2 separate regions of the Homo sapiens genome follow, and region 2 is linked to region 1. Evidence: fine-mapped expression QTL. Tissue or cell type: whole blood. Region 1 holds a variant in brackets; the other region holds the start of a gene. All regions are shown on one strand. Distances are from middle to middle.

Evidence for each region. PIP is the estimated chance that this variant, and not a neighbour inherited with it, causes the effect.
Region 2: it holds the start of UGCG, and the variant in region 1 is fine-mapped to the expression of UGCG in whole blood (TOPMed, PIP above 0.99).

What each region holds. Positions count from the first base shown.
Region 1 is chr9:111,934,397-111,939,773 of GRCh38, reverse strand. UGCG (UDP-glucose ceramide glucosyltransferase) reads right to left here. Exons shown (of 9, transcript NM_003358.3): 9 at 4,405-5,377. Among named protein-coding and RNA genes, the nearest start is that of MIR4668, 5.0 kb to the right of the region's middle. RefSeq lists an enhancer at 1,580-1,889. The variant G/A (reference allele first, on the strand shown) is at 2,400.
Region 2 is chr9:111,894,170-111,899,546 of GRCh38, reverse strand. It overlaps UGCG (UDP-glucose ceramide glucosyltransferase), which reads right to left and starts at 2,733. Exons shown (of 9, transcript NM_003358.3): 1 at 2,234-2,733. The coding sequence starts at 2,331. RefSeq lists silencers at 2,289-2,378, 2,489-3,078 and an enhancer at 2,699-3,282.

The DNA of each region.
Region 1 (5,377 bases):
CTGGGCGACAGAGGCAGGTTCTGTCTCAAAAAACAAAAAGCAAACAAAAACAACAACAAAAACCCAAAACCAGAACTAGAAGATTCTAGAAGGGGAAAATAAAATTTTAGTATTTTACTCATGTGTAGAGAAATCTTTTGTTTTAGTAGGGTGAGGGTGGGGGGGTTGGGAGCATGAAATAGCAAACACCTTACTAACACAATGAGAGGGTGGAAAGGTATTAAATGACATATGTGCCAGAATTAATGTTTTGATTCTGGCTTGACTGTCAACAATAGACCTTTCCCGAGTGACTATTACATGAATGCACTGGAGGGAAGGGTACAAAGAGAAAAAAGCACAAAAAAGGACTACTAAGATATGCAAAGTCCAGGCCCCTGAAAACTGGAAATGACCTGCAGACACGTAAGTGAAATGCCTGACAAAATGAAAGGGACAAAATGTGGGCACACACAACTCTGGAAAGGTCCTGAATTGAATGTGAGTTGAGGTTTAAAGGAGAGTATGTTGACCAGGTGCGGTGGTTCACGCCTGTAATCCCAGCACTTTGGGAGGCCGAGGCAAGCGAATCACTTGAGGACAGGAGTTTGAGACCAGCCTGGCTAACATGGTGAAACCCCTTAAAAATACAAAAATTAGCTGGATGTAGTGGTGCACGCCTGTAATCCCAGCTACTCAGGAGTCGGAGGCACAAGAATCGCTTGAACACAGGAGGTGGAGGCTGCAGTGAGCAGAGATTGCGCCACTGCACTCCAGGTGGGTGACAGAGTGACACTCTGTCTCAAAAAACAATAAAACAAAAAAACCAACAATAAAGAAGGAGAGTATCCCCATAGACAGGGAAAGTGAGGATGAAGGGAGAGAAACTTTCAGGGCAAGGAAACAGCATGGGAGCAAGGAAGCTCTGGTTCCACACGGAAAAGGGTCGGCTGGTGAGAGTGAGCCATTGGGTTGGGGGTGGAGAGCTCAGGCTGGAGAGATGGTGATGTGAAATGAGAATAGAAAATTAAGGACCACCTTTTCCTGGGCTTGGAGTAAGGCTGAGGAACATGGGGTCAGAGGAAGAAGCTGAAGTCAGAAGTCAAGCTCCAAGTCAATGTAGAGACAAAGCAGGAAGTAAAACAAGCAATATAACCAAAAATAAGCGAATCAGAACAAAATGAAAAAGGGCAGACTGTGGGCAGGGCTAGGGTGCCCACAGCTGCTTCCGGGATGCCGATTATGCTGTTGGGAGACAGTCTAGGATAAAGTCAGGAGACTGGAAGATGGGGATGGACAATTCCCCTTCATCGTCTCTTAATGACCCAACTTCTTAGGACATTTCTCACAAATTCAAGTCAGGCTTAGTTTTTTGGCTTAGTATTACTGGGACCTTGGGTGGAAATGCATCGTTGTTGCAGTTTCCAAATATCTGTGCCCATCGCTTTCATGTCTTTTTCACACGCAGCCAAACCTAAAGCATCTGACTTCTGCTTCTTCCACTCTGATGAACTGGCTTCCTGGGAGCTGCCTTTCTTAAACTGTTTCCTTGGCATCAGAGTCATATGGGTGCTCTCAGGGTCAGGAGCAATTTCTGTCTTTGAAAGTCCCACCCCTTTGTCTCTCACTGTAGAAAATATATCACTGTGTAAAACAAGAAAAATCGTTCATAAAGAAGCTGTATTACTCCCACGCAGACACTTCATCTATCAACGTCTGAGACAATTCACTATGGCGGAGACCCACGCTGGCAACTCTACAGGGAGTTTCCTGCCCCAGAGTTCACCAGCCTCTTCTCATCCTTTACGGTCAACGGCCCCTCCCGTGACCACTTCCTTCTTGAAATCTCTCTTTCCAAGGCTACTGTGGCACTCCTTTTACTATTTCTTTCTTCTTTGGGAGGAAAAAGGCACTAACTGTCCCTATGCTCATGTACATGACCTCATCGAATCATCTCTACCACCTCAGGTGCTTTAGTATCTCCATTCTACATGGTTAAGAAAGCTTGGCTCAGAAAGATGAAGGAAGCTTCCTAAAGTCCCATAGCTACCAAAAAGCCCATTTGGACCCCAGGTTTGGCAGCCTCTTTTCCTAGATGTTTTTCTTCCATTGTCTCTCTAAATGGCACTTTGACTTTAGTTATAGTCACTGTCTCAGCCATCACCTCTAGGGAAATTACTCCCAAGTCACCACTTCTAACCCATTCCTTTCCCCTGCTCCAGAGCTGCACAATAAATAGTCTGCTGGATTTCTCCAGCATGTTCCTTAGGCTGGCCTGGTGTCCGTCAGTCATGAGGGGAAATGATAGAGGTTTCACATCTGGTGACAAGGGTTGGGAAACAAAGGTGGCATGACCGCAATGGGGTGTGCAGGCAGCAGAGGAGGGGTGCAGATACTCTCAGTCCTGTAGAAGAATAAAT[G/A]ATATCCCTAAATTGCTTAAATTAGATAATTACAAGTCCATGCTATTAGCATGGATGTCTTAATGATGATTAGTCTAAACAGCACAACCACATGAAACCATTCCAGACACCCACAGTCTCTGCCAATTTCTCTCGGAACTGAGGAGGGGCCATGTGAAAGGCTTAGCACATTTTGGTTCTTAGGAAACTAGCTGCTTAGGGATCTCTTAAAGATATGTATTTTTGTTTTTAGAAAATACTAGGATAGTGATTTTAAACTTTTTTCTAGGTATCAATATTTTTAAAGCAAATTACCCAACTAAACACATATCCTTGCAGCTCTGCAGAGACAGGTACTCACCATTTTGCGGTTTGCTTTCTTTTCACCGAAATGAACTTGATATGGTCGTAAACTATAACTTGAAATGAATAAATAAATAACTCAAGCACTAGATCCTGATAAACTTCAGAAGGAAAGGTCTGAACTATTTCCATTCTCATGAACACAGTCTTGTGGTATGCATCAATCTTATCAATCATGTATGTAAAGCATTTCACTTTAAATGAGCTTTATAGTAATTTACATTCTTGTTCTACAGGTTTGAATCTGGTTCTCTAGAACAATTTTTGAGTTAGGATACAGATGGTTATTAAAACTGTGATATTTTTCCCCCTTAAGGTCTAGGTAAATTTTCAAGCCAGTGTAAGCATAAATTTAAATGTGGTCCAGCGGAGAAATATACCACACTGGGACCAGATAGAGGGGCTACTCCCAGCTCTGCCACCAGCACCATGCCTACCTAACCCTATGATCACAGCTCTCACCGTGGGTGTCTCAGCTTCTTCATTCTAAAATAAGGGTGAGGGATCCTCAAGATCCACCTAGCTATGAAATTCTAAGACATACTCAACTTTGTGTTGATCATTTCTTAAACTGTAGGGTTAGAAGTACACAAATGAGAAGGAATGTTTGTTTACTGGGCCAGATCCCTTTTAGACTGTGTCTTACGGCTCCGATAACAGAATACCATAGACTGGGTGGGTTATAAACAACAAAACTTTCTCAGTTTTGGAGGCTGGAATGTTTAAGATCAAGGCCCTGGCAGATTTAGTGGCTAGTAAAAGCTGACTTTCTGGTTCATAGCTGGTCACCTTTTTGCCGTATCCTCACATGGCGGAAGAGGCAAGAAAGCTCTCTGGGGTTTCCTTTATAAGCATCAATCCCATCCTGACGGCTCTGATCACCTACCAAAGGCCTCACCTTGAAAGACCCTCCTCACATTGGGCATTAGGTTTCAACACAGGAACTACGGAGAGACAAAAATATCAGCTGAGAGCGGATTCTTTCTACCCCGGATTTGTTCTCCAGTTAAGAACATTCTTTTCTCATGGGATGGTGGTAAAACAGGCCTGTAAAGGCTTCCAGCTTGGGAGGGACCTGGCCTTGGAAAGTATGTAAGGTGCATCTCCCATCTGGGTCTCAAGTAATAATGCCACTCCATTCCTTCCTTTGGATTTACATTTTCTAGCCATTAGAGTGGTAAGATCTAAAAGGCTGAGTTCAAGCTGTGAGCCCGGGGGGAGAGGGGCCCAAAGGACCACTGGCTCTTTTCTAAAGGTCATTACGAGCCAGTCATTCTCACAGTAGAATCACGGGTAGAAGAGCTCAGGCCTCACCCAAAATAATTACACCAAAATCTATGTGGGCAGGGCCCAGGGTGTGTGTGTGTGTTGTGTACAGGGCCCAGGGTGTGTGTGTGTGTTGTGTACAGGGCCCAGGGTGTGTGTTGTGTATTTTTTTTTTTTTTTACAAGTTCTCCAGGTGATTTTAACAGGCAACCAATGTAGAAAAGCCATACTTAAGTCACAGGACTGCCTATGTCCTTATTTATTTTACCTATGGCTCAGGTAAAAGGAAGATTTCAAAAGGAATACTTGACAGAACTCTTCTAATAATTCTGATGTGAATGGTGGAACATGCTACTTATAAAAATACAGAAGAACAAAAAATACACTATTGCTAACGTTTTGATTGTATTCAAATTTTTATTTTTTGAACAAAAATTTAAGACAATGATTTTAAATAATAAAACATGGTATATATTCTAGACACTGGTTTTTTTTAAAGATTTATTAAATTTAGACTCCTATAGTTCTGTTGTGATGCTTTCTTCAACATTTATATTATTTCTTACCATTTTATCATCACTCCAAGCTTGCTAAACAAAGAATCTCTCTGTTAAGTGAAGTTTTACATTAAGGAAATACTCCACTAGCACACTGAACAAACCTACAGAACTGTCCTAGTTTATATTTACAAAACACAAGAAGTCTGTCCAGCCATTTTGGTTTTGTTGTTACACTGTCCATACTGAGATCAGCAGAGAGCTAAGTAATACACAAGATTACGCTTCGGCAGTGCAAAGGATGGCATCAACCAAACTTCATTAAACAGACCAACAAGTACAAACATGGTGAGCAAAGTTCAACTCAGGTAATAGTGATTAAAAACAAAACATGTAGTGGGTCACAACCAGACTGGTTTTCACTGTGCAACTTTCCTCAGGGAATAATACCCATTCACAGAAAGAAAGGAATATGCATCCAAGCCTTTGTTCATAAAGAAAATGCCCTTCAAACAAATTCATCATAAGGCTAAAAAAAAAAAAAAAGAAAGAAAAAAGGATGAAGCAGTTTGGCCCAGAGAAAAGCTTAAATATAATGTGTATACATACTTATAGATATGTTGCCATTTAAACCATGGATATAGACATTTGACAATTAAATGAATTGGCTCAGTAAAGTGAAAAAGTGTTTTCTATAAATATGTAGTTATTGCTGATATGCTACACATTATGCTTTGACATGGAGACTGTAGTAACTCAGAATTTAAAGCTGCCATATTGCCAGTGTTAGCCCTGCAGTAGGCATTCCTGTGGACAACATGCCATCCAATCCTGAAGAAAAAGCAAAACACCACTACTTAACAAAGAAAAGGC
Region 2 (5,377 bases), 40 kb after region 1:
CTGGGGAAAAGAATGCTACATGTGACAGAAAACAACCTTTATATCAGAAAGATGAATTCAGCAACAGATTGCAGCACAGGCAAAGGATTATGAGTATGTAATTTACATCTAAATGTAACTAGCATATAAACATATTTTAAAAGTGCTCAATGTAACTTTAAAGGAATGAAAATAGAAACAGAAAACAGTGAAATGCCTGCTACTTAGTGTTTGTAAGGCAAAATGGGGCCATCATACAATGTTACCAGGACTGTGAATATACATAACATTTCCATGGGGCCAATATGTATCAAAGTTTAAAATGTGCACCACTTCTGGCCCAATAATTCCTCTTTCGGAAATATAAATGAGATCATTTCTCAAAGATGTATGCATATAAATTCATCACAGTGTTCTTTGTAATCTAGATAAATTGGAAACAACCTAAACATCCATCAGTAATAATAAATAAATCTTGGTACCTGGTAAACTAAAATATCATGCATCTATTACAAATGATGTAGAGATCATACAGATATTGACATGCAAAAAACGGTCAAGACATTTTACAGGACAGTTCCATGTGAACAGGGGCCTTGTATGTTTGTTCTTCACTCTTCCAGCAACTAGAACAGTGCCTTGCACAAAACGGCTTTTCAATAAACATTTATTAAACAGATGAACTTTAAAGCAGGTTACAGAACAATAATCATAATATAGTCCTTTTCTCTCTTCCCTCTTCCCCTCCCTCCTTCTCTCTCTCTCACACACACACACAGATTGGAAGGATAGTCACAAAAGGTTAACAAGGTAATGTAGTTTTGGTGTGTGCATATTTTAATTTTCTCCATCTCTCTCTATTGCATAAATTCCTTACACAGTAAGCATTTTTTATTTTTATGACGGTAAAAAGTAACAATTTTTTTAAAGAAAAAGAACTCACATATTTTAAATGAACTCCAGAATGTGCTGTGACTAAGCTCACCAACTCCAAAAACTAAAGTCAACAATATCCAAGTGGCATGTTTTCTTTCACTTTCAAAGAAATATCAGTATAACCTGTACCAGCATCATCTTTCTCAGTACCAGGAAATGCCACACTATACTAATAAAATACAGTGTTTCCAAAAGCAAAGGCACACTTTTTCCGCAGTAAAAAGGAAAAAAAAAAAACCAAAAAACTAAAAGTAACTAATTTCTTAAAGTCTCTTCCACTAACATACACTCTATTCTAGTTCATGGTAACGATTACTATATACAATTGCTCTTTTCTCCCCCCAGACTAAAAATCCAAGTGAATCGATATCAGTAATGTGCTCTATATAATTTTTTCATTTCTTTACAGAGGCAGATTTCACCTTAAACAGTGGATATACCAAACTAGCCACATAACCCATGTCTCTATTCACGCCATCACCCAGTTCTATTTTACTTACACGCTTCGTCACAATCTCATAACCTTATTTAGATTTTATCTGCTCCTTCCTTCTAGAATGTAAGACTCATGAGGACAGGAATTCTGTCCTGCTCACCACCATGTCCCCTGGCCAATAACAGTGAATGGTATCTAGTAGGCCTCAAGAAGTATTTGTTAAACAAAAATGAAAAGATGTGGCCGGCACGGGGAGAGTACAAATCTACATAAAACAATAAAACGAGGAACTGAAAAAAGGAAAGAAAACCACGCTGAGATGTACAAGCTGACAGGACTCAAAGCTATCATGCCAGCTCGGAGGTTTGGTGGACATTTTTCAGGGTGGACAGGTGCTTCACACCTATCTAAGCGCATAGAGCCCTTCCAGGAAGAAGAAAATCCACAGAGAGGTGTCCAGATAGCTGTGAGCAGCTCCCAGAAAAGTGGACACAATCACCACCCTAACAGAAACGTGGCCCAGGTCGGGAGAAAAAAACAATACACCATACATCTCGGCCCAGATGAAAAATTACACGAATCCCCAGCACAATCAAACCAAGCCACCACCTTCAGCCTGACACGTAAGAGCAGTCTCCTTTAGCCTGGCTGGGCAGTCGCCTGCAACCCAGCAAACCCTTCCCACGCCCAACACTTTTCCCTCGCAAAGACCACCGCCACCGCCGGTCCGAGGGGCGAGGGAACGGGGGGAACAGCCTGACGATCAGCTTTCTCCACCCCCGCCCGAGCCCAGTCCCCTTCAAAGCGCAAACGTTTCCCATTCTCGCCTGTCTCCGAGGCCCGGACCCCTGCCCCGAGCCCCTCCTGCGGTCCCTCACTCACGTGTAGATGATAGCCATGAAATGCATCAGCCACAGCACCAAGAAGAGGACGAACCCGAAGACGGCCATTCCCTCCAAGGCCAGGTCCAGCAGCGCCATCCCCCGGCCCGCCGGACCGGCCCGGCCCGCTGCGGCCGCCAACACGGACAACGCTCCCGCAGGAGGAGGACAGGGTGGGCGCCCGGTGCGGGGGCGCGGGAGGCGAGAGGAAGGTGGGGAGAGGAAAGGGCGGAGGGGGGTGGGGACGGAAGGGGCGGGCAGGGCCTGCGCGCCCCCGCCCGCGCGCTCTCGCCTGCGCGCTGTCTTCGGCGCGCTCGCGGGCGGCTGCGGGTGCTGCGGTCTCCCGGCTCTGGTCGGGGCGACCGCGGTCCCGCGCTCCGGTTCGCCTCTCCCGAGCCTCGCGGCCGCCCACCAGACCCTGCGCGCGGGCACCTCCGCCGCCTCTCCGTCTCGCCGCCGGGCTCCCGGCCGAGCAGCTCCACCGCCGCAGCTCCGCGCACTAATCAAAACCGGCGGCTCGCGCCCCACTCCTCGGCGCGTCCCGCCCCCGGAACCGCGGCGCCCGCCTCTCCCAGGGGCGGTGCCCCCATCGGTCCACGCCCACCCTGTCGCCCGCGCGCCCGCTGCGGCGCCGGCGAGAGCGCGCCGGGGAGATCGTGTCCTGCTGCCCGCAGGACGCAGGCCGGGCTTCCTCCGGCTCCTCGCTCCCGCTGCCGCCCACCTAGGCGGAAAGCGCTGCAGCCCTGGGCCGGGCTCCCTCGGTGTCGGTGGCAGCTCGGGACCCTGTGCCTGGCTGGAGGCTGCTCTCTCTCCGTCTGGCCCTGCTGTTCCTGGGTGCCCCAGAAAAAGACACGGGTTCCGGGCAGCTGCCGGAGCTTGTCTAGAAATCCAACTTCCAACGCCGCGTCTGCAGCCTCCCCGCCGGGCACTGCTACTGCTCGGAGCAGCCAGGCCCTCCAGGCCACGTTCCTGGGCGCAAGGGATGCCCATTGCCTTCCCTCTTACTGCTTTTAATGCTGTGGGATCTTGGATCAAAAGGGACCGGAGAGTAAAATAATCTCCATGCGCCTCACAGATCTCTAAGCGCCTTAGCGACCGTGTGTATTATAAAAAGAAATTCTCAAATTCAGAATTAAAGAATCAGTTGATATTGAAATTCCCTAAGACTGCCATCCAATACGGTAGCCGCATGTGGCTAAGTGAGGGTTGGAAAGGCAGCTTGCCACTCTGTGGAGTAAACAGTACACCAGATGTGGAAGACCATCTCGTTAGTAAATTTTATATTGATTGCATGTTGAAAAGGTAATATTTTGGACATACTACATTAAATTAGGTAAATTATTAAGTTAATTTCTCTTTTTAAATACTTTGGCTAGCTACTAGAAAATTTTAATTGTACGTGTGGACAGCACAGCTCTAAAATGGGAAGAAATGTCACTTTGGGTAGTAAGGTAACTAAGTATTTGTCCTAATTTTAAGTCATCCCAAGAAGATGCTAGTACTCAATGTTTGTGTTTCTTCAATCTAGATGAGTTTATACTATTTCTGCATTGTTTTATGTTTATTGTTGCAAGTGATTTCCTTTTAAATAATCCATGACCTCCCTTGAGATATTTCAGAATTGAATTCAATTTTGAAAAGAAGTTGTGGCTGGGCGCGGTGGCTCACACCTGTAGTCCCAGCACTTTGGGAGGCGGAGGCAGGTGGAGCATGAGGTCAGGAGTTCAAGACCGGCCTGGCCTAGATGGTGAAACCCCGTCTCTACTAAAAATACAAAGAATTAGCCGGGCGTGGTGGCAGGCGCCTGTAATCCCAGCTACTCCGGAGGCTGAGGCAGAGAATTGCTTAAACCTGGAGGGGCGGAGGTTGCAGTGAGCCGAGATCGCGCCACTGCACTCCAGCCTGGGCGACAGAGCGAGACTCTGTCTCGAAAAAAAATAGATGAATTTAAAAAAAAGAAAAGAAGTTGTTTATTATTGCTGTTTATGGTAGTTAATAGTCACTGAATGATCTACCTCAATCTGCAATTAAATGACAAACTACAACTAGAAGAGTTAATGTCCGAACCATTCCTCGATTAACATCCTTGGCTCCACTGGTGCAGAATCAGTGGGAAAGAACAATGCTTCAAAATCAAATTCCCACTGTTGAGAGTTACTGGCTGATAAAAATAGCAGGATGGAGGGCCAGGCGCAGTGGCTCATGCCTGTAATCCCAGCAGTTTGGGAGACTCAGGTAGGAGGATTGCTTGAGGCCAGGAGTTTGAGACCAGCCTGGGCAACATGATGAAACCCTGTCTCTACAAAAAAAAAAAAAAAAAAAAATTAGCCAGGCATGGTTATGGCACCTATAGTCCCAGCTACCGGGAAGGCTGAGGTGGTAGGATCACCTGATCCTGGGAAGTGGCGGCTGCAGTGAGCTGTGATCGCGCCACTTAACTCCAGCCTGGGTGACAGTGAGTCCCTGTCTTAAAAAAAAGTGGAATAGAATTCTAACATCGAAATAACGTTCCAAACAAAAATTTACGATTGTAGTTAATTCTAAGGCACACTTCAAAAAAACACTTTAACAAATTTTAATTTCTCTGAAATGGGAATGCATCTCACAGTCAATGCCATCTTAGAGTTAATTGGCGTTTTTTCTTTTTTTTTTTTTTTTTTTTGAGGTGGAGTCTCGCTCTGTCGCCAAGGCTGGAGTGCAGTGGCGTGATCTAGGCTCACAGGAACCTCCGCCTCCTGAGTTCAAGCAATTCTCCTGTCTCACCCTCCCCAGTAGCTGGGACTACATTTGCACACCACCACACCCGGCTAATTTTTGTGTTTTTAGTAGAGACGGGGTTTCACCATATTGTTCAGGCTAGTCTCGAACTCCTGACCTCGTGATCCACCTGCCTCGGCCTCCCAAAGTGCTGGGATTACAGGCGTGAGTCACCGTGCCCAGCCAATGGCTTGTGGTTTTCTTTTACTCAAATATAAAATAATAGTGCATCTTAGTGATATATAAAATAATGCTGCATCTTATCATTAAATGCCCTCTTAGATTTGAGGAACACCAATTGCTTAATTTAAGCATTGTTTTATATTCTGCATTTTTTCAAAAATGTTTTCTGGAACCTTACAACAAAGGATTTTATACAGTATGACCA